2 separate regions of the Homo sapiens genome follow, and region 1 is linked to region 2. Evidence: fine-mapped expression QTL. A gene starts in region 2. The other region holds a variant in brackets. All regions are shown on one strand. Distances are between the middles of the regions.

The links. PIP is the estimated chance that this variant, and not a neighbour inherited with it, causes the effect.
Region 1: its variant is fine-mapped to the expression of GLIPR1 in whole blood (TOPMed, PIP above 0.99).

The regions. Positions count from the first base shown.
Region 1 is chr12:75,498,026-75,510,055 of GRCh38, reverse strand. GLIPR1 (GLI pathogenesis related 1) reads right to left here. Exons shown (of 6, transcript NM_006851.3): 5 at 11,336-11,362; 6 at 6,193-11,232. The coding sequence ends at 11,078. KRR1 (KRR1 small subunit processome component) reads left to right here. Exons shown (of 10, transcript NM_007043.7): 2 at 1,610-1,782; 3 at 3,140-3,274; 4 at 3,447-3,572; 5 at 3,657-3,740; 6 at 4,802-4,858; 7 at 5,982-6,152; 8 at 8,056-8,133; 9 at 8,240-8,333; 10 at 10,105-12,030. The coding sequence ends at 10,247. Among named protein-coding and RNA genes, the nearest start is that of KRR1, 7.6 kb to the left of the region's middle. The variant A/G (reference allele first, on the strand shown) is at 5,394.
Region 2 is chr12:75,473,327-75,485,356 of GRCh38, reverse strand. GLIPR1 (GLI pathogenesis related 1) reads right to left here and starts at 4,602. Exons shown (of 6, transcript NM_006851.3): 1 at 4,303-4,602; 2 at 3,278-3,523. The coding sequence starts at 4,476. GLIPR1-AS1 (GLIPR1 antisense RNA 1) reads left to right here. Exons shown (of 2, transcript XR_007063373.1): 2 at 1-1,903. RefSeq lists an enhancer at 2,285-2,334.

The sequences.
Region 1 (12,030 bases), 25 kb before region 2:
TTGCATATCTTTTCACATGTTTTGAGGCTTCCTTAATTGTGAAACTCCTGAGTATTTCTTTTGTCAGTTTTTTTCCTGAGGTTGTAGTGGGGATTTTAAAAAAAATTATCCATAGCCTTTGAAGTGTTTAAATTGGATAGGGACTTCGTCAGGTAAACATTGTAAGTAACTAGTTGCAGTGACTCACACCTGTAATCCCAGCACTTTGGCAAGCTGAGGAGGGGGGATTGCTTGAGCCCAGGAGACCAGTCTGGTCAACATGGCAAAACCCTTTCGCTACAAAAAAAAAAAAAAAATTAGCCGGACATGATGGCACATGCCTGTAGTACCAGCTACTTGTGAGGCTGAGGCAAGAGAATAGATCGCTTGAGTCCAGGAGGTCCAGGCTGCAGTGAGCTGGGATGGAGCCATTGCACTCCAGCCTGGGTGACAGAGCGAGGCCCTGTCTTTAAAAAAAAAAAAAAAAAAAGAAATGTGTATAGTATATAAGTAATCACTTTTGTGGAATTCGTGTTCTTTAAAGGACATTGGAGAATCCTTTATATGAAGACTAGCCAATTGTCTGTGATTTGAACCAGAAATAGCAACGTGGATGTGAGTATAAGCAGAAAGTTTACCTGTCTGAGGCTGCTAACATAGGGTAATGACGTGTTTTTCAAACTTTACCGTGCTTAAGAGTCTCCTGTTGAGCATGGTAAAACACAGATTCTTGTCCCTCGTCGAAGAGATTCTCATTCAGTAGGTCTGTAGTGGGGCCCAATAATTGCATTTCTGACAGACTTACAGTTTGTGCTGATACTGCAAGTCTATGGATCATACCTTTGAGTATAACTGAATTAGAGTATAGCTATTGAAATTAAGGAGTTCTTCAAATTCAAGATCAAGAGTTTTTTAAATAAATGATTCAGAAGATAATTTACGGCCCTTAGGAGGCATTTTCTTGTAGTGAAAGGAGTCCCAGGCTGAGTGAGCTTTGTGTTCCCTTAGGCAAGTCACTTAACCTTTTTAGACCATCTTCTATAAAATGAGAATAATAATACAGATTCTACCTTTTATAGTTACGATGAAAGGCGTATGGAAATAAGGCACTCAAAATGCTTAGGAAAATCTAGAATTACCAGTGATTATTAACTGAAAGATAAACTAGAATTCTCTTTCAGAAGTTTTACACAAACACATACATCCAGATTCCATACACTCCAGGAAAGTCAGAAAGGTTAATTGTATTTAAAATACTAACCAAAATGGCATTCAAATCTTCAATTTTATGATAGTGTAGTGCAGTACATGTTTCTGGAGTACTCACTATCTGCCTGGCATATGCCAACTAGTGTGAAGAGGGTTTCTGCTCTTAAGGAACTTTGTCATATGAGGCAACTGAAATGTGTACAGATAATTTTAATACAGAGAATTGATGATAATGACAGAGGAACGTTCTTTGACTCTTGAATAATATAAAAAGCAGGGGAAAAGGAAATGCAAGGAGTATTGGAAGGTTTGTGAATATGTGCATAGGATGTTCATAAAGTGTCCAAAAGACAGTTAAAATGTGATGTGTATGTCCAAAAGACAGTTAAAATGTGATGTGTAAATTTTTTCCTTTCTGTAGATGAATCAGAACTCCTTACGGTTCCTGATGGTTGGAAGGAACCAGCTTTTTCCAAAGAGGACAATCCCAGAGGACTTTTGGAGGAGAGCAGTTTCGCAACTTTGTTCCCAAAATACAGGGAAGCTTACTTGAAAGAGTGTTGGCCATTGGTGCAGAAAGCCTTAAATGAACATGTATGTGTATCTTATATCAATACATTTATTTGAGACTTTGCTCTTGCTTATGCCTTTAAATGTATGTATGCTAATGCTTTTTTTTTTTTTTTAATGGTGCTAACATAGCTGGTTACTTTGGTTCCTTTGGTATTCTAAACTATTTAAGTAAGTTTTCTTCTTACCTAATGTTCATTTGTTTTAATTTTATGAGTAATAAATTACTTTGAAAAATTTACATACCTTTAATATTTTAGGAGCTTCACAACTGTCTGAAATTCACCTGTGAAGTCCCAATTTCAGTATGCCTGCTCCAGGCCATGATAGTTGTCATGTATCTGTCCCAGTCTGAGCTGAGTCATGTTTCTAATTGATTACCTTTCATCTTAAATGGAAGATGTGGATGTGTCCAACTTTTCCTTGTTTATTGCTGATGCTATGCCCCTAGATAACTGCATTTTTTTTTTCAAACTGGGGATTGAAACCCATTAGTGTATTGAGAAGTCAATTTAATGGCTATAATGAGCCTTTAGAAAATGACATATCACATGGTAAAAGTATCTTTTTTTGATATTGGCTTTGTTTGTGTGTGTGTGTATATGTATTAGGTTGTGATATAAAATGTGTTTCTAACTGTGGGACTGCTCTGGAGTTGGTTGTGCCATTGTGGGTGAAGGTGGCTCAGCAAGCTGCAGGTTGTGTTTTGTAGCTGCATCTGGGATTGAGCTCATTTTTTTTTTGTAAACTCATAGAGACTCAACCATATGTTGAATTGTTCAGCACTTAACTATGTTGAAATATTCTTGAGATTATGCTCACAAGTGAGAAAATAGCATTTTAATTCGCTTTGTTGAAATCTGTTTTTTCCTGTTGAAAGTTAATGCTTAAGTTTTCTAATCATTGCTTTTTTCTGAAACTATGATAATTTGCTTTTACTTTGTATTTAGTCCCCTAATTAGCTCGAAAAAAGTTTGAAAGGGAAAGTCAATTCTTACCCAATGGAGCAGATGGTAGACTGGAGCTGGGTCCAGAATAGGGAAGCTGTACAGCTTTACATTTTTACCTTAGTCAGATTTTAAGTATGACCTCATTTGTTTGATTTATAATTTTTAAATTAGAGGCAATCTATATTCCAGTGGGTACAAAGTATTCTAAAACCAAGGGTAAATGGTTTCAATTGCTCCAGTTTCTTATAGTCTGTAAAGTGTGAAAGTAATTGAGTATTCATTATTTATACTTAACTACCTAGCTTCTTCAGGGAAGTAATTGATAGGAATTGAGAGGTGACAGAAATTAATAGGTTGGTTAGGAGAGGCTTTATAATTATCTAAAAAAACTCATTTTTAGACAACTGCTTGTTTGCTCTTTCCTTCTGTAGCATGTTAATGCAACCCTGGACCTGATCGAAGGCAGCATGACTGTTTGTACTACAAAGAAGACTTTTGATCCATATATCATCATTAGGGCCAGAGATCTGATAAAACTGTTAGCAAGGAGTGTTTCATTTGAACAGGTAAATCTAGAATTACAGAGACTTTGCTTTGTTTGCATCAGTGTTAACCTATAACATCCCACCATCAAGTTTTCATATTTGTGCTTAGGTAACAATAGCGTGGGCCTGGAAAATGAATGTAATTGTAAAAAATGTTGATAATGTCTTCTTTTTTTTTTTTTTTTTGCAAAAGGCAGTACGAATTCTTCAGGATGATGTTGCATGTGACATCATTAAAATAGGTTCTTTAGTAAGGAATAAAGAGAGATTTGTAAAACGAAGACAACGGCTTATTGGTCCCAAAGGATCTACATTGAAGGTATTTTTTAATTAGTGGAAAACTTGAGTCTCTTCCTTAATACTTTTTCAGAGTAATGAATTTTAACTTGATCTCTTGATACAGGCATTGGAACTCTTAACTAATTGTTACATTATGGTTCAGGGAAACACAGTTTCAGCCATTGGACCTTTTAGTGGCTTAAAAGAGGTGAGAACTATGTATTATCTTCGATTCATTTTCAGCAGAGAACAAATAATTTGGTTATAATATAGTTTATTGGATAATGCTTTATAATTTTATTTCTTTAGAATGTGCTTTGATTTCCCATTAGTAAATACTTTTTATGTCATATAATTCAAGGGAATCATCATATCTGGACCCTAACATGTTTTGGCCAACCTTGGCAACTATGGAGACATCCATTTCTGAATTAGATGGTCTGCACACTATTACTCCTCCCACTATAAAATTTAAATGAGCATTAAGATCTTCAGTCTGTAGCATGTATGAACATGGTATAGTTACATATGTCCAAATGACGGGAAAATTGAGCAAAAATCCAGTTATTTGCAGTAGTGTATACAGCCAGTAGAGGTCACACTCTGAAAACTTTTCTTCAAGATGTAGTTTCTTTTGTTTGAATTTTAGTATAATGTTTAATAACTTTTCATGAACATTTTCTTTAACTTCTCAAATTACATGTGGTGAGGAAATCTGTGGAGCAAATGCTGTTTCTGTTAACTCCTTTTGGTACTATTACTGTCTGGATCTGGCTTGTGAGGTTGTGCTTCCTTTCCAGGGCCTTTAATAGTAATCCTATTGGCCTTTTTTGTCATAAATTGTCTGCTCTTTTCTCATGGAGCAATAATTAAGTATATTGAATACAATTCTTACAAGAGAGTCTTGAGGTATATGGTTTTATCTTATATTACAAATGAGAAAGCTGGAACAGGAAAGTGATTTTCCTGTATGCAGTGGCAGTCCTTGTATTCCAGCCCTCTTCCTCCTAAATCACATTGCTTTAGAGTGTTGTATTAGTTCTCTGTGCTACATTTTAGCAGTAATTGAGAAACTGTATTGTATTCAAGGGAGATTGACTGCCTTTATGAAAGATGGAGAAGCCACTCAGAGCAGTTGAAGGAACTACTTAATTATTTAATTACATTATTTAATTTGGTACCCATTACCTGATTTTTGCAGTATTAATCCTCTTCTCCATAGCTCATTAAAATCCTTGTGACTAATTCATTTTTCTTTGCAAATTTCAGGTTAGAAAAGTAGTCCTTGATACTATGAAGAATATTCATCCAATTTATAACATTAAAGTGAGTGGTAATTATATATAACTGTACCAGTGATTATCATACTTCTTTTAGCTACAGAAACCTTTCTTGAAATTAAATGTTTTATGAAATTCTAATGCACAAACAGATAAAGCAGAGCTATTTTGGGTAAATTAGGGGTAGACTTCAGCCTACTTAATTCTACCCCAGTTTTGTAGGTACTTCTTAGAAGCTCTCTGTGGAGCACAGTGTGAAAACTACTGAAGGGGATACTGTAATATGTTATATAGTTGTAATCAATGAAAGTAAGCTTCACAGAATCTGTTGTAGATCATATCAATCCAGTTTTCTTAGATTATGAACCCATGTATTTAAGGATATGATCTTTCGGAAATCTGCCTTTTTCTATTAAAATCTGGAACATCTCATGTTGCGTTAAAACCTTTTTATGAATTTAACACTCAAATTGTAGCTCCTTTGAGAGAGAACTGTTATATCCCTGTGTGCACAAAGTTTGATTATTCTTGGAAATGTAACCATGGTATATAGAACTATTTTATGATGGGTTTGTTGAGCA[A/G]TCCACTTAAATTTGATGAACTTAAGTTATAAAGTCACTGTTAGATTGGGGGAAAGTGATTTTGAGTTACATTGGGATATTGGGATATTGCAGACAAAAACAAAACTATGTGTCTGATCCCTGGTTTGCATCCTCTGATGTTCCATGGTCTGAAATTTAAATGGAATAGGGAAATGTGAAAATACTGGTTTTCTGTAATCGTGAGAAAGTTTACTTTTGTCTTTTTCTGTGATATTTCAGTTGCTACTGAAAACTTCCTGCTTGCAGGGAACATCAGCTAATTAAGAGCCCTCCCTGCTTTTATAAGTGGCATTTTAAATGTTTTAATGAAATAATGGTTGAAAATTCAGTTTTATTTTTGTCTCATTTTAACAATTCTGCATTTTGTAATTAAATTTCTAATGGTTTTCTAATAATTATACATGTTTGTGATAACCTACCTTTTTGCTTATGTAATTGGTTTAATTTCACCAAAGAAACTAGGAACTGTTTCTTTTATTATTTATAGAAGCAATATTTATAATGTCTGAGTCTGACAAATGTGTGACTTTGGAAAGTAAAAATTTTTACTTTGTTGCATGACTAAAGAGCTTAATGATTAAGAGAGAGTTGGCAAAAGATTCTGAATTACGATCACAAAGTTGGGAGAGATTTTTGCCACAGTTCAAACACAAAAATGTGAATAAACGCAAGGAACCAAAGAAAAAAACTGTTAAGAAAGAATATACGCCATTCCCACCACCACAACCAGAAAGTCAGGTTAGTACTAAATGTAGAACTTCATATGAAGGAGAATCTATTTTAATGTATTTGGTCAGAAACTTTATTGAAAGTATTTCAGGTGGGATATGTGTATATATATATATTGTGTGTGTGTGTGCAGAGCTATAAGAAACTGAGGGTAAATATAAATAGGCATATTTTGAGCTGAGTGCATGGGGGTGTGCAGTGGGGCGTTCACATTGATTATAAACTGCATCCAGGAGGTTTGTGACCCTGTAGCCACTGTAAATGTTCCATGGATAAAAGTTCGTTTAGTCTGCAATACTCTTTTCTCTGATTTGGCAACATTATTGTGACTGTGTGCTCTATGGTTGTTCTTGTTCTGAAATCTTAAATTGTAAATTGTAACACCCACCGTTTTTCTAAGTTATGATTCCTTTTGTCAGGTGTCTTCTGCTTCATTTCCTTTCCCACCATGACCAGTTTCCATTTTGTTCTTGCACATCATTGTTTTGATTCATGCCCCTTTTTACTTCTGTCCCACCTTCTCAGCAAAGCTCTAAAACTTGGATCAGTCTAAAAACTTGACTTCTTCCTTGCAACGTGGCTACCAAATTAAGTTAGAGAAAGTTTTATCTTTGGATTAATTTCATTCAAAATTCATGTTTCCTCTTAATTCTCTCAGTGCCCTCCCATGTTTAGCATATGACATTGCATTTTATTGAAATATTTGAGACCACCAGATAAGAACCCCTTTCTGTTTCCTCTTCTCTCACGTATGGGTTTTCTTCCACCTGCATCAGCCTCTTCTATGTGTTCTTTGAATTCCATCTTCACCTGTCTCCTGGGGGTTCTTGCTTCATTATTCCCTTCCTTGGCTATATCCTAAAGCCTTCCCTTTCTACTTCTGCTCAGCATGTGAACTCATTGCTTTCTACATCTCTTTTTTCCACAACCATGGTTGGAGTCTTTCAGGGAAGATTTGTGATTGACGGGGAAAATGATGATCATAGTGAAAAAACAATGGAAGTTTTGGATCATGGAGGAAATTGATAGTAGTTAGGGGGAAAGTGGAGTGATGCAGTCATTAAACCATGCTTCCATAACACCTGCCTTATTTCTTATGGCCCTTTCTTGTAGTAATTGACTTATCTTTCTTCTGTAGCTGTGTAAGCTTCTTGAAACAGTGATGTCTCGATTGACTTGTTCTTAACACTTAATTCATTATGTGACTGGGCGAGTTATTTATCCCATCCATACTTAAGTTTCCCCATACCTAAAGTGGGAGTAATGGTAATACCTATCTTAAAGAATTGTTAGTGAGGATTAAATGAGTAATTATAAAGAGCTTAGAACAGTGCCTTAGATATAATAATGCTATGTAAGTGGGAGACAGGTCAGTTATACACATTTTACATGTTGGCTGTATATTGAATGAACAAGCTGTTGCTTTTGCTAATTAGTCACCAATTCCTGATAGTTCTGGCTTTTATTCTGCATGCCACTACCTTTATTCCAGGCTCTCATCTATTCTTCATTCCTCTCCATTAAAATTATTCTTTGGTCTTTACAGTCTTCTCAGAAACCTACAGTCATTTCTAAATCTTATCCCTCCTACTTTGTCTGCCATTGAAGCTTCTTCAAATTTTCCCCAAAACTCTCTCTCCAGTTTCTTCTCACACTTTTCTGAATCAGTGACCTTCCATGCCATATCCCTGAACTACTCTGGGTTGTATTCCATGGAGGTGCTTTCCTACCTCCACACTTTTGTGTATGTATTCCCCTCAGCTTAGACTCTGTTTCCTTTATGTCACTACCATTTTTATTAATAAATCAGTTTGACCCCATTGTTTTTACCCTAAGGATATTGTGACTTGCTTAGGACATGACTTCTCCTCTACATTATTTCTGATGTAATTGTAAATACCGTTTTCAACAGATCGATAAAGAATTGGCTAGTGGTGAATACTTTTTGAAGGCAAATCAGAAGAAGCGGCAGAAAATGGAAGCAATAAAGGTACGGCACTTTATGTCTGGCTCACATGAATAGCAAAGTTCATAGATACTTGAATTATTTAACTATAAATACATTTAACTGATATATTTTTTATTTATTAATGTAGGCTAAACAAGCAGAAGCCATCAGTAAGAGACAAGAGGAAAGAAACAAAGCATTTATTCCACCTAAGGAAAAACCAATTGTGAAACCTAAGGAAGGTAATGCTTTCTATGATGTAAAAGTCTTTATTAATTAGGAAAAGTAAACCCATAATAAATTTGTCTGAATCTTTTTAAGAAACAGTTGTATCTTTTCATCAGTTCTCTTAGCATTTCATTAATTACTAATCCTAAGGACAAGGGATGGCTGAGATAATTTATAATTTAGAGGCAGCTAATGCCTATTTCAGTGCAAACTGGATTGACAGTCCTCTCCTGACCTCTGGTCTGTGCTTGGAAAAGACTCTTTGTTGTGAAAGATACAAACCCAGGGCAGCCAGTGCATCTTCTGTAGAAATGCAAGAAGATCCCTGAGCTCTGCTGTCATGCCTCTCAAAGAGGAATTATCAGAAGTTGTACTTTTTCTTCTCTTTATGTGATCTTGGCTTAGAGTTTGGCTTCTATATCGGTAACATGGATTTCTCATCACCTTAGACTAAAGGATGCTGACAGGTCTTATTCAGGAGCTATTAGTGCGAAAGTGATTGTGGTTTTTAAATGGCAGAAATCACTTTCGCACTAACCTAGTATTTAAAAGACACTAAGAGAAAACATTGTCATGCCATTTCTTCTGATGCATCCTCTTCTGCATTTTTTTCCCCTGTGGTAACACTTATCCTCTTCCTAAAGTAACCCTCCAAAGTGAACAGTGACACACTGAAGGGAGAGGGCTCACCAGCAATATTGTACATAGACTGGGTCAGAAACAGATATAATACATTATTATTTTAATATATTGCTTGTTAATAGCTTTAAAAATACTACATTCTATGGTAGATTATTGGTTATATAAAAGGTAGAAATGTCATAAGTATTATAATTTCCAGTCTGTAAAACCTGTCAGTTGAGTGCTTTGAAGGTACTCAATATACTCAATAGCTAGTTACCCTAATTTAGTTTCTCCACACGGTGGAGGCTTTAACACTCTGTGCTTCTCAGGTTGCTGGGTAGTTTGATGTTTTATCTTATGATTCTTTTATGCTGTGATCCTGTACTTTGAATGGTAAGAAAAAGTTGCATTCTTTTTCACTGCTTCCTTTCTCTATTTTGTTCACACTTTTGGCATTGATTAGATAGTTGGCTTCTATTAGGGGGACTTCCACACACTCTCAAATTATTGTCTTTATTACCAAAATGTTGTTAAATATACCAAAATCTTGTTAAAATACTATTAATTAGTCATTCATTGAATTAATATTCAATGAATTAATCTAACATTAAATGAATTAATTCATTGAATATTCAATTAATATTGAATTAATATTTGGAAAACTTTAAATTTTCGTTTTGATATTAGAGGAAGTAGATTTTGACCTCTAGCTTAGGGTTAGCTGATTAAACTTATTGAGAAGGGATACATGTAATTTTAAATTATTTTAATGTGCAAGATGGAAAATAATGACTCAGAAGTTCCAAAATATGGAAAAGAATGTAGGTAAAATAATTTAGTCTGAAGTAGGATTTAAGGAAATAGTCTTAATATAGTTGAATCCAGTAATTGGTTCAATTATGCCATTTATGCCATTTTTATGTATACTTGTACTAATATATAAAGTATTTTATGATTTGTTTTATCTTAATCTGAAGAAATTTCTAACTGCTTTAGGCAAGTGTTTTTATATTTTATACTGTGATCACCTTTCAATTATTCAATTATAAGAATACTCTGAAGTTAACTGCCTTAAACATATATTCTTTGTTAAACATATATTCTTTGTTTTACTTGGTAAAATCTAAAGTATTACATGTGTTGTGCTTTTAATTTGTCTAGCTTCTACTGAAACTAAAATTGATGTGGCCAGCATCAAGGAAAAGGTTAAGAAAGCAAAGAATAAGAAACTGGGAGCTCTTACAGCTGAAGAAATTGCACTTAAGATGGAGGCAGATGAAAAGAAAAAGAAGAAAAAAAAGTAACATACCCAAAACTCCTTGACTAGAACTATCTCCTTTTGTAAAGGATTTTGAGATATCAGGCATTAGTTGCCTTATTTGTGAGAAATTTTCTGAGGGCTTTTTTTTTTTTTGGTGGTGGTGGTTGTTCATAGAAGAGTGTTCTTTATAAATTATATTATTATTGTATTTTTTGAAAAATTTATACGAGAAAGTGGTATATAAGTCTTTGTATACATTACGACCATTGTGATTATCCATTAAATCCAGTGTCTGATGCTATTGGTTAGTAATGATGTCCCAGCATTTGATGTTCCCTCTCTAATGATAACAAGTAAATATTTAGGTTTATCCCTTTTGAAAGTTTGGTTTTACTTTTAACAGTCCATGAACAGAAAATTAAGGCCTCTAAAATCAGATCCCCTAGTTACTCCTCTGTTCTGAATCTGGGGAAGTAGTAAACCAAAAAGACAGGGAAAACCAGATATTTAGAGTCGAAGCAGCATGCAAAAAATAATAATGTTTTTAACTAATGAAGGCTACTGGAGTTACTAAGAATCACCTAAAAATGTGCTACTGTACCTTGCTCATTTTGCAGATTTAGAAGCTGAAACATGGGTTAGGTTACTTACTAAAAGTCCACCTGTGGCAACCTGCAAATAATGCTTATTTATACTAAAGATGAGTTTATCTGATAGAGTTAGGAAATTTCTTCTTTTGAGTAAGAGTATTGCTATAACATATATTTTTTTCTGAAATGTTTTAAAATAGAAGTACACCTAATTGTTATTGGTTAAAAAAAAAGCCATATGTGAATGAGGTTGGTTTTTGGGTTTTTTCTTTCCTGAATTGTATTAGTCCAAAAGAACTAAATTAGGGTACTTGTGCTGTACCAAAATGGTAATTATAACAGACAGTATTAGAATTACTGAATTAACAATGAGAAAGAGAGAAGTGTATCTGTTACGTGGATATATGGGCCAGCCTGGATATACAACAGAGTAGTAACCTGTGAAACAAACATAGAATATCCTCTTAGACATTGTTCCTCATAATGCACTGACAGAATTCACATAGCTCTTAATGAAACAATTTAAGATTGATGTACGTACGTTTGACTTGGTCTCGCTGTCGGTTAACTGTAAAGTTAGGGGGAAGAAAGAAAAAAAATTAAAAGGGTAGACACAGTTGAGAGTTTTATTTTAAAAAGCTAAGTCTTATAATTATGACCATTAACTTGCTTTGGCTTTATTGCAGTGACTTTCCAAGTTTAATTATTCAAAACTTTTTGAACTGACTGAATTAACTTGGTATTTTTAAGTTGACTTTTTACATAAACTTTATAAACCTTTTATAAAAAGGAAACTATACCATTACTATAAATGGAAAATCATTTTACACATCATACCTAGCAGGTAATAAAATTTAAAAAATAAAAATTAAATATTAGAATGTGAGAAATTTATTAAAATATAGTTCTAAAAATAAGTTTCTTCCTGAGAAGAATGATACTGTTTATGATGAATCCATAGTGAAAAGACAGTGACCTCTCTTTCATCCAGTCTAGTATATCACTAAATCATCATTACGATGTTTGGCTATCAAGTCATTAATTACTGTCCTCCTTTCACTGAGCTTTATTCAAATTTTGACAATCAGAGCACTGGGAAGAAATAAATTCCACAACTGCCTTTAGCCTTCTGGATACTTTCTTTTATAAAATAGAAACCTTTTCCACACCAGTTCTGCAGCAGTCGCTATTAGATGCTCGTGGTAGAACCCATCAATCATCTGGTCCTCTGGGTAC
Region 2 (12,030 bases):
TGTCGAATTTGAGTCATCTTCCATTTTATACACCAACATTTTTTCTCAATGCCAGTCTATCTCCAGTGAAGACAAAGCTAAAGTGTTGAATGAATACATCAAGAAATATCATACATTTTGTGAGGAGTTAATGGGCCTGAATCTATTTTCTTTATTCTGTACAACCTCCCATCATCAGCCAAAATCTGCAAATAGCTCGATTTTTGAAGAGAAGATGAGGATAAGTAGGAGGTTGTAATATCCACTTAAAGTAACTGTTCAGCATGAATTTAACACAGCAATTGAGTAGTTTTGAGTCCCCCAGGAAGATTTCTTGTCATGATGAAAACAGTCTTTCACCTAGCTATCAGATCCTTCTTCCATTATGATTGTTGGAAAACCAGCTTATGTAAGGATCTACCCTTTGTTCAATGCCTACTAAATACTAGTATTTTATTAGGTAATGTATACATATTTTATTTGTCAGGCCTCTGAGCCCAAGCTAAGCCATCATATCTCCTGTGACCTGCACGTATACATCCAGATGGCCTGAAGTAACTGAGGAATCACAAAAGAAGTGAAAATGCCCTGTTCCTGCCTTAACTGATGACATTACCTTGTGAAATTCCTTCTCCTGGCTCATCCTGGCTCAAAAGCTCCCCCACTGAGCACCTTGTGACTCCCACCCCTGCCAGCCAGAGAACAACCCCCTTTGACTGTAATTTTCCATTACCCAAATCCTATAAAACAGCTCCACCCCATCTCCCTTCATTGACTCTCTTTTTGAACTCAGCCTGCCTGTACCCAGGTGATAAAAAGCTTTATTGCTCACACAAAGACTGTTTGGTGGTCTCTTCACAAGGACGCAAGTGAAATTATTATTTAAGCCTTCCAACATATCTAATATCTGAACCTCAACTCTTCATCTTACTAGCTAAATGACATCAGGGGAACAACTTATTAACCTCTCTAAGTCTGTTTATTCACCTGTGGGTAATACCATTAACATCTCCTTAATAGATTTGTGGTAATAATTGAATGAGGTCTTCAGTGTAGAGAGCTAAACACTATGCCCATTTAAAAAGTGATTGCTGCTGCTCTATCTTCCCAGCCCAGGGGGTTCTTGGACATTCTCCCCGTGATGAGTGCCCCTCTTCTGAAGTGGGGGTAGAATGTAGTGGTTTCTTAAAGAGGATCACTCATGTTAGGATCACTGAGCTTGGGTTTTAATATCTGTATGTATGGGACTGGGTTTTAGAAAATGAATTTTCTCATGACCAAAATATTAGTCCTCCTTTTTTCCCTTAGATGTAAGGGGAAATTTTACAAGTAAGCTCAGTTAATTTTGGGAGGGCCATCTGTGAAATCTCAGGCATTTATGGCATAAACTCAAATGTTCTCTTCTTTCGATTTCCTGGAATGGTGAACATGGAGTGTCTTAACTTGTGTATTGAGCATGGTTTAGGAGTCTGTTGTCAATTTTACAGTCTTTTGACCTCTATATATTTGGCATGCTGAGCTTCTTGCCATTGATCTAAAGTACCAGGCCCATTCATACACATTGTATACTTTCCACACCTTGCTGAGAATTCTCTTCCCTTTCCTTTTCATCTGAAAAATTCCCACTCAGTTTTCAAGTACCAATTCACATGTCTCCAGCAGTGTGAAGCTTTACACTTCCTTTTGGCCGGATAAGTTGCTCATTCTGTCCTCCTTGCTCACATGGCACTTTGTCAGCTTCTCTAAATTGTACTAGCCAAACACTGTCATAATCCATTTACACATAAGTCTCTCCCAAAAGGTCAATTTCTGAGGGCCAGGGACCATTTCCAGCTGTATTTCTCCTCCTTCCCTGGCTCATTCCCTATTTCTCCTCACTTCCGCTTCTCCAAGATTGTATCCCAATAAAATGTTAGCTCATAAACTATTGTCTCAGGCTCTGTTTTCCAAGAATCTGGACTAAGACATATCACTAGTGCCTGTTATAGGGTAAAAGCTTAAACACTGACTAATAAATAAATGAAAGTAGGCACCCTCAAACTGACAATTATTTCTGAGTATTTAAATACCGCAATGCATAACAGTACAAGTACCACTTGTAGGCTATCTAGATTTAGCTTTCTACTCCCCTAGGTCTTGTTGGAATCCAAGGAAACTTATTTCCTGGTTAAATTTATTTGTAAATGTAAACCAAAATTGTTAGTTTATGAAGTAAATTTAGGAGAAATTCATTTTACTCTTATAATAATTTTTTGTAACTGCACCAAACTTGGTTCATCTGTAGCACCACGAATGAGATCACAGGCTTTGTAAGGCTGAGCTGGAGTAAGGGAGGTTTTCTTACACCATGTTGTTCCTTAAAACCACCTAATGTTTCAATGTAACTGCCTTGATAGAAACGTTTTTGCCTTCATACCTCATTTCAACTGATTTTTTGTGCCCCAAAACAGTCAATTATAGGTTAAGTACCGTACGTTATTGGTTTGACAAGGATGGCCAGGAAGTGACAGTAAATAAACAAAATGTAGCCAGGACAGGAAGGCAGCGTCTGAAGACAATTATGACAGATGCTCCCTAGAGAGTTGTTTCCATCATGCTGCAAATGTGAGGTAGGGTTAGGGAGCCAGAATCAGCTTGAGTAAAAATTAAAAAAAAAAAAAAAAACTCAATGGGTGGCTCTGAATGTGGCTATTGGGACTAATAATATGGATTCTGGGGGCAGAATACCCTCAGAATGGTTCATATAAGTTTACACGTTGGCCTCTCTGTTGGCCTGGGACTGACTTTTTCTCCCTCCTTGTGTAGCACCGTGCGTGGTGCCTAGTGCATGGCACACAGTAGGTTTTCAGTCGATGTTTGAGAGAATGAGAGGTTGTGGAAGCATCAGTTCTTATTGATGTTTCTGTCTGAGAGTCTTGTTTCTTCCAATTTTATAGTCCCAAAACAATTGGCTCAAATTTCATTTAAAACTCATGCTACAGCTGGAACCTGAAAATCCTTTCACTCATAAGGTTCTTTGATTTCTCACAAATGGAATAAAGTCCTATGGGAGAATAGCTGTTACAGGAATTGTTCAAAGCCTGTCCAAGTTGGTGGGCCTCACATATTACCTATTATGTGTTTAGTTCACACAACTAAACTTTTCAAGCATTATTTTCTGTTCTTGGAGGCTGTTCTATTTAACTCCCTTATATTTACAGGTATACTAGCATACTATACATTTTCTTAACTTCATAGTACAATTTTTCTCCTCATACTTGAAAAGACAGTTTCAAGATAATATAGGGCAGATCCTTACCTGAGTGTAGTGGCCACAGACTTTTTTGCATATCCGAGTCTTGAAGTCATAGTCCTGGATTTCGTCATACCAGTTTGTGATGGCGGAAGACACAGAAAAAATGGGCACAGACCCAGTCCAGATGTTCTCTCCCAGTGAAGTGAAGTTTGGGTGCAGCTTGTGGGGTGGCTTCAGCCGTGTATTATGTGAAAACTGGCAATTGCTGGCCCATGCTTTTGCAATTTGGGCTAGTGCTGGGTCCCAAGTCTGCAAAAATAAACATTAAACAATAGGGGGTTCATCTGAAATGTAACTGGGGTGAGTACAGTGGGAATTTGAATGGAAAACGAGGTGAGATAAGGAGAGAAGATACCACTGCATATGAGTCCTCTATAAATATGGTCTTCAAGCACTGAGTAGGGCTGGTAGGAAACGTGACAATTTAGTTTCATGGAATTTAGAATCTAAGTGAGGAAAACTGACATTTCACTGAAGGCTAATTGTGGGCAAAATAGTGTGTGCCGTGTTTCACAACATTATTCCATAACCACAACAGCCCATATCCTAAGAAGTTCAGAAAGGTTAAAAACCAGCTTAAAGCCACAGATCTGAAATTCAATCCCAAGCCTTACTGAATCAAAATCCCATCCTTTCCCCAGATGCCATTCTGCCTACCTGAGCAACTCAGTACTTTGTCAGCAGCAAAAAAAGTAAATTTAGAGACAAAAAAAAAAAAAAAAAAAGAAAACCAAATCACAAAAATTAACAGGGAGGAAGATAACAAAAAGAGAAGTAAAATCCACTGAAAACCAGAAAACAGGAAGTGTCCAAAGAGAAGTAAAATGTGCTGTGGCACTTGCTTATAACAACAGTTGGGTAGACAGAGCTAAACTGGATGTGTTTTGATCACAGACTGTGAATTTACTGCATACATTAATCACAATGAAAAAAAAATCATTCAGTATTACGAAGGTATTAACACCAAAGTCAATACACATTAGTTGTTTCTGACTGACTGACGCCACAATTAATGATATTTTCCTTACCATGTATAGCATATCACTGGCTGTTGGTTTCACCTCTGATCGGAACTTGTTATGGATTCGAACGCAGTCTTTGATGAAATCTTCATTTTCGATATCTGGCAAAATATTTGCTGTGTGTGAATAATTGGAGACAAAAGAAACCATCCAGGCTATTGTAGCAAGTGTGACACGCATGCTTTGTCTGGCATGGAGCCTTGGGAGGCTGCAGTCCAGAGCCGCCGCAGTTTCTGAGAGTGTGATTGCCTGAGTGCTCAGCCCACAGCTTTGCAAACCTAGCCGACTTCAGCTTTGAGAAAACAGAACAGAGCATGAGTTCATCACTAGTTTTAAGAAACGGGTTTCTCCATATATGGTGTGCAGCTCACTTTGTGTTCTTAACCCTGTCTTTTCAGTGGTTTTCAGTGACACAGCACCTATTACGACATAGATTTTTATGAGGCTGTGTCAGACTTCCTTTTGAATTGGGAGATATTTCCAAAGAAAATTCTGAAGTCTCCAGGAATAATAGTCTCCAATTTTTAATGGAGGTTGCGGTGATAAAATGAAAATATCTCTTACTTCTATAAATGCCTCGCAAAATGCTTTCAGAAATCTTTTTCTTTTTAGAGTCATATCAACACATAGTGGTTGGAATATCTGGTTAACATCATAAACTTGACCTAGAATTCATTCACGATGGTAGAAACATGTAAGCGTGTATGTGTGTGTGTGTGTGTGTGTGTGAGAGAGAGAGAGGGAGAGAAAGAGAGAGAGAGAGAAAGAGAGAGAGGGATTGAGAGGGAGAATAGTAGAAAGAATACAGGACTCAAGTTGAGAATTTAGTTTCTGTTTCTAACTAGCTGTAAGACCTTGGACAGGATACAAAACTCTCTAAACCTCAGCCACCTATTGAATGAGACTATGGGACCTTTTCTGCTTCCTTAATTACAGAGGTTTGGCAGGATCAAATGAACTAGCTAATATTAAATTCCTGCCTTGTATATTCACCTTAGTAATACAGAAATAAAAACACAGTCACTGGCCCCAAGGAGCTTACAGTGGTAAGAGCTGTGAGATGGTGATGACAAGGATGTTACAACAGGGGCTGTTGGAGATCTGGATATAGGAAAGCACAGGTAGATATGGACACACAAGAGAGCATACTTAACCCATTCTGGAAACGGCAGAGCCGGCCTACATACAGCAGGTGAGGTCTTTGCTGAGGCTAGAATCAGCTAGGTGTTGATCAAGTGAAAAAGCGCTGGAGAGGAGAAGGGAATTAGAGGGATAGGAACTATATATCTAGTTGTGAAATTGAAGACATGGTGTTATGGCAAGAATAGAGCAAGAACCTCTCCATATTGTCTCCCTCTGTAAATATGGTCTGTAAATAAGTAGTGATTCTGACTGGTAGAAAACTTGATACCTGGTGTCATGGAATTCAGAATCCAAATGATGCTTTCATGCCACTTGGGGGAGAGAAGTTAAGAGTCAGATCAGGAAGGATTTCTCAATTCTGCTAATGATTTTTTATTTTATCACCAAAGTCATGGGAAGTTATTGGAGGATTTTAGCTGTAGGTGGGGTTTAGACCTGGTTTTAGAAAACACGTGTATTTTAGAAAATTAAGAGAGATGGAAAATGGAATGAGGTGGGGAAATATTTCTAATGCAAACAAAAAGTAAAGAAACATTCCAGGCACACCTGTAGCCCCACCTACTCAGAAAGTTGAGGTGGGAGGATAGCTTGATCCCCACAATTTGAGGCTGTGAAGAGCTATAGTCAGGTCACTGCAATCCAGCCTGGGTGACAGAGCGAGGCCCCATCATTAAAAACAAACATACGGGCCAGGCGCGGTGGCTCACGCCTGTAATCCCAGCACTTTGGGAGGCTGAGGAGGGCGGATCATCTGAGGTCAGTTGTGCAAGGCCAGCCTGACCAACATGGTGAAACCCTGTCTCTACTAGAAATACCAAAATTAGCCTGGCATGGTGGCACATGCCTGTAATCCCAGCTACTTGCGAGGCTGAGGCAGGAGAATTGCTTGAACCTGGGAGGCGGAGTTGCAGTAAACTGAGATTGTCATTGCACTCTAGCCTAGGCAACAAGAGTGAAACTCCATCTCAAAAAAGCCCAACCAACCAACCAAACAAACAAAAACCATTACAGAACCATAAGGCAGAATTACTATTGCCACACACACACAAATAACCTTAAAAATACTCATACATAAATTCAAATTTTGTCCAGGCTGCCTAATTTCTACTAGCATGTCTTTACATTATAGGAATCTGAGATAAGCAGTGTCTTATCCAGGTCTCATAGGCAACTTTTTGATCAATGTAGTGACAATAAACAAAGAGACCTTTCTCCAGTTTGAAGTGGTAACCATGTCTAAGGCCTGCTTCTCATCTTCTTCTGGGTCTCTGTGAGCTAGACTGAGTTTTGAATACAACAACAAGAAAGAGGAAACCCCACGAGCAAGCAAAATCAGTGGTTTTTTTGGTTGCTTGCGTAATCCCTGTTATACACATACAACTCCCAAGAATGAGCAATGTTATCTTGGTCTTGAAATGATTTAATATTTTTTCTCTACTTTCCTGAAAATAATCAGCAAAAGGGAAAGTCTGCCGTCACAGAGATGATTTTTGTGTTATTGTGCAGACCAGGTTAGCTCCTTAGAGCTACAACTCTAAAACTTTTCAATTCACACTACACGTTTGCACCAAAAGTCCAGAGAAGTGGTTTGCCACAGAACAGGAACTTTTACTTGGAAGCAAATGTAAGCCTGCACTGCTTAGAAGGCTTTGAACTTTGCTATGACTTTTTCCACTTCTTAACCCAAGTCTTCACCATGATCTCTTTGATAATTATGCACGTGTGTTAAGACAGAGAGATTGGTTTTTAGTGCTCATCACTCATGGTAGCATTTTAAAAGATTTTTAACTTTCTTTTTAATTCTTCTCTGTATCGTTTAATTTTTTTACAGCAAGAACATGCTATCTTTCATAGTAATAAAATAAACTGCAATTATTTTGGAGAGTCATGGGATCTTTAAAATCATGCACAAATTCATACATATACATTGCCTGATAAACCCATGCATAGATAAAAGACTAAAGGAATATCCACAATTTCAGTATTGTGGGTAATACTGCATAATGGACTATGTCTCTCTATCCCCGCAAGCTTTACTCAAGTGTCTTATAAAAAGCAACAGTTTGTGTAGCTAGAGATAATCATTTATATTATGTGGAAAAATCTCAACCTTGCTATACTGTTCTAAATATATCAATTTATATATATGATGAGCTTTTTTATTTCTTGGGGAGAAATGATATAGAATTTTCTATAATCCCACACTTCCTGATTAGATTCCAAAAACATTTAGGCTCCAAAACCTCTAGCCACCTATTCTACTGGGGCTATGTGTTGGGTGTGGGGATAGACAAAGATAAAGGATTCAGAAAGAGGGAGGGGCTATATTTATTAAGCAAACATGTCACTGTTACATTGTTGTGTGATGATACTTTAATTTGGTATAAATTAGTTTTACGTATGTGACAATGTACAAGTTAACTGTAGTCCATATTCTAGAAGCAGTTAATTAGTGCTGAAGTACTCTAACCAAGAATCCACACTCCAAAGGTGATGGTTAACACTTCAGATATGGTTATGGAAATTGATACCTGAGAGTTTGTTAATTAGAACAGGGCATGTTAGAGAATCATTTTCACTGGCAAAATGAGTAATTTTCATGGTGAATGGCTTGTGGGGAGATTGAACACAGCCTCCTGCTATTGCATGAATGAAGTATAAAGAAGCAGACATCCTCAGATCTCTATTACTGCTGGTGTAGTGTTCAAGGGAATTGCCACCTCACAAGAGGTCCCCGTTTTCTGCCTTGACTTCAAGGCTGCTAGTCTTAACTTTAGAATGTCTGTTTAGTGAGCTTACCATTGGAGCGTCTAAGAGTAGAAAGCAGGAATGTTTCTGTAATTGTTTGCTAATGAATGTTAAGACATTTAGCAAAATTTGTCCAAGACTTACTTTCATAATAGCATACTATCAGGTACTGGGTTTGTAAGGGAGGGGAACATAGCCTTTGCATAACTCAGCTCTAACTGCAAGAGGCTTCAATATTTATCAAAGGAACCTGACATTTGAGGCCATGTTAGCTTAGGTCAGTTGGCAGCAGTGATGACAAGCACCAAACCTTTTCAAATTCATTATCTCACTATGCTCTCATAATAATCTTGTGACATATATATGTGTGTATATATATGTATGTGTATACACAAAATTATTCCTATTTACAGATGAAAATATTGGGACATAAAGAGGATAAATAACTGGACCAGGGGAATGACACTAGTAAGATGTTAACTTAAGGTCTCATTGCAAATCTTGTCTGTAGTTGTTAAGAGCACAAGTTCATTAGACTGTCTGGGTTCAAATCAAATACCCTGTACTAGGTGTATGAATGGGCATTTTGTCTTTCTGTCCTTTAGTTTCCTTATCTGTAAAATAGGAATGATAATATTACCTCCTTCATTGGATTGACAAACAAATTTAAATAAGAAGTTATTTCTAAAAACAGATTAGGTAGTGCCTGACACAGGGTAAGTACTATATATACCAGCTATTATTATTATTTCTTTTCCTTTATTACTCTAGGTATGCATAAGTGCATTCCATACTGATAGGGTTTGGCTGTGTCACCACACAAATCTCATCTTGAATTGTAGCTCCCATAATTTCCGCATGCTGTGGGAGGGACCCTGTGGGAGAGAATTGAATCATGGGGGGTGGTTTCCCCCATACTTTTGTCATGGTTGTGAATAAGTCTCATGAGATCTGATGGTTTTATAAGGGGTTTCCCTTTTTGCTTGGCTCTCATTCTCTTGCCTGCTGCTGTGTAAGACATGCCTTTTGCTTTCTGCCATGATTGTGAGGCCTCTCCAACCACATGGAACTGTGAGTCCATTAAACCTCCTTTTCTTTTCTTTTTTTTTTTTTTTTTTTTTTTTTTTTTGAGACAGAGTCTCCCTCTGTCACCAGGCTGGAGTGCAGTGGCGCGATCTCAGCTGGCTGCAACCTCCGTCTCCCGGGTTCAAGTGATTCTCCTGCCTCAGCCTCCCAAGTAGCTGGGACTACAGGCACATGCCACCACACCCAGCTAATTTTTTTGTATTTTTAGTGGAAATGGGGTTTCACCATGTTGGCCAGGATGGTCTCCATCTCTTGACTGCCTCCCAAAGTGCTGGGATTACAGGCGTGAGCCACTGCGCCTAGCCCTTTCCCTCATAAATTACCCAGTCCTGGGTATGTCTTTATCAGCAGGATGAAAATGGACTAGTACACATACATACAGTTGAGGCTACGTTTAACCTAGAACACTTTCATATTTATAGCATTACATTTTGACAAGAGAATAAAATCAAGTTAGGAAAAAATATACCTTGACACTGTAAGTATTATTGCTATAGATCAATAATGGATTTTTGATATAAACTACTCACAATGGTGTTACATTTGTTTCTTGACGGGTTCTTTACCTTGTGACTTTTTATACACTGCATTTGGTATTCATTTGAATAGTCTAAATAAATAACTTATTTTCCTATTAGAAATAGATGTATTTAATGACCCATAAATGATGTTTTATAATTAGTTTTTAAACAGTTTTAGATATTCAGATGAAAAATGTTGGGCAAATGCCACTTGATATTCAAGGTTAATTCTTATACAATGACACTGGAGCAGAGCAATGCTCCTACTAAATATACTCATTTCTTCTAAAATAATGTACAAAACAGTAATATTGGCTTTTTTAGTTATTAGACTGCAACAATTTTATGTTGTATGTTTGGACATTTTTAGCTTTATTATGTATTCCCTTTCTCTACCCAACAAAGGATCATTTTCAAAAATAATTGCCTTTTAAAAATATATAGCTTTGTAAAATTAATTTTTTACTTTAACATCTTTTGCCTAGCTTGGATGATTTTGGGTTATATGCAGTTCTCAGGACTAGGTTAATTATATTTGTATATTCAAGCATAACTATAGCTACATTGAATTCTTCTGGTTGCCAAGGATTCTGCTATGTGATATTTCCTTTCAATTTCTCAGATGTAAGAGCAGAAATAATCTATTCTTTTATACTCTTACTACTTTTCTTTTCTCAATCCCTTTCATTAGTGATAATATATACTACAACCAGATCTTTCTTCCCCAAATGGAGCCAACTGTGTCAGATTAGGATAGTAATACATACCTCACTGATTTTGCCTACAACTGCCTAACATAGGACCTCAACACCTTGTAAAATCACCCACAAAAGGTTGTCTGAGGGTTTCTTTTACATTAACTGGTGAAGAAGTCCATTTCCACCAAGAGCTTATGCTACTTTTCCAGACACTTATCTCTTGTGTGGCCACGGTTCCATGGGTTTCTATTAGGGGTGCCTCAAGAAGTCAGTCCATAGGGTCAGCCCCAAGGCAGTGCTACATGCTCAGACGCCCTTTAGTTTTTACTTACATCTTCCCTGATTGCCTATCTACAGAATTTGGGTTAGGAGATAAATTCGAGTGATGGTATCCATGCTGTTCAGAATCTTCCTTCTCTGTCAAGGGCTAAAGAATTTTCTATTGGGTCAATTTCAGCACAACTTTCTTCCTAGGAGGCTCCTTCATTTACATGAAAATAGGACTTTGATTAGGCAAGCCCAGATATGCCCAAAATTGTACCCAACAGGAAATCCCTGCCCACTATCCCACTAGTTGCCAGCTATTATGCAAGGCATTTTCCATATTTCTATTTCCAGCCTTGAGCTCACCTCATGCACTCAACTGCTACCTGTCACGTCTGCCCCAAGGTCTTCCTCATCTCAGTACATTGTCATCAAAATATCTTCCAAATTCTCAAGTCTAAATCTTGGGATTATTCCTGCATTTTCTTTCTCTCACTCCTCAAATGTAGGCAATTAGCAAATCCTATTATGTCTATCTTTGAAATGTATCCAGAATTCGACTATTTCTCATCGCTCCACCTTCTACCAACCTGGCTTTACTTCTTGCCTGGATTATTACAATAGCTTCTAAGTACTATCCTTGCTTCCTTCCTTGCCCTTTACATATATGCTCCTCTGGCAGTCAGAATTATCCTCTTACAATATAAGTCAGCTATGTCACTCCTCTGCTCGGAGCTCTCTAAGACTTTGATCTGGAGATGAGCAACATGAAGAAACAGCCTCTGCATGAAGCTTCTATTTTTGACAGATAGTTGACAACAGACATGTACAGCTTTTGGGGGTAGTAGTTTAAGAGGTGGTAGTTTTCTAGAAGAGCAGGTAGCCAGAAGTTTTAGAAAAGTTCTGTTGCTGACATTTATTACTCAATAGCAGCAACAGTGATGATTTTCTTTACAGCAGACTTGGTGGGCATTGCCCTAGGAAGCTTAGCCTAGAGACTGTTCTCAGCCGCCTTAATCATTCTGTCAGCTACCTAATTGCTTTTAATAAATATCATTTCCACTTTAGTGGCTTCTTTTCTTTGCAACTAAGAATCCTGACTTTTTGGGGATAAAGGAAACAAAAATTATCAATACATCTCAGAAGACTCCCTCTCAACATTTTCATGTGCCTCTATCAATCTTTTATACATATTCTCATATATATATTTGAAATATATAATACACACATAGAAATTTTGTTTGTTAATCGAGGGCATAATTTCATGCAATCCT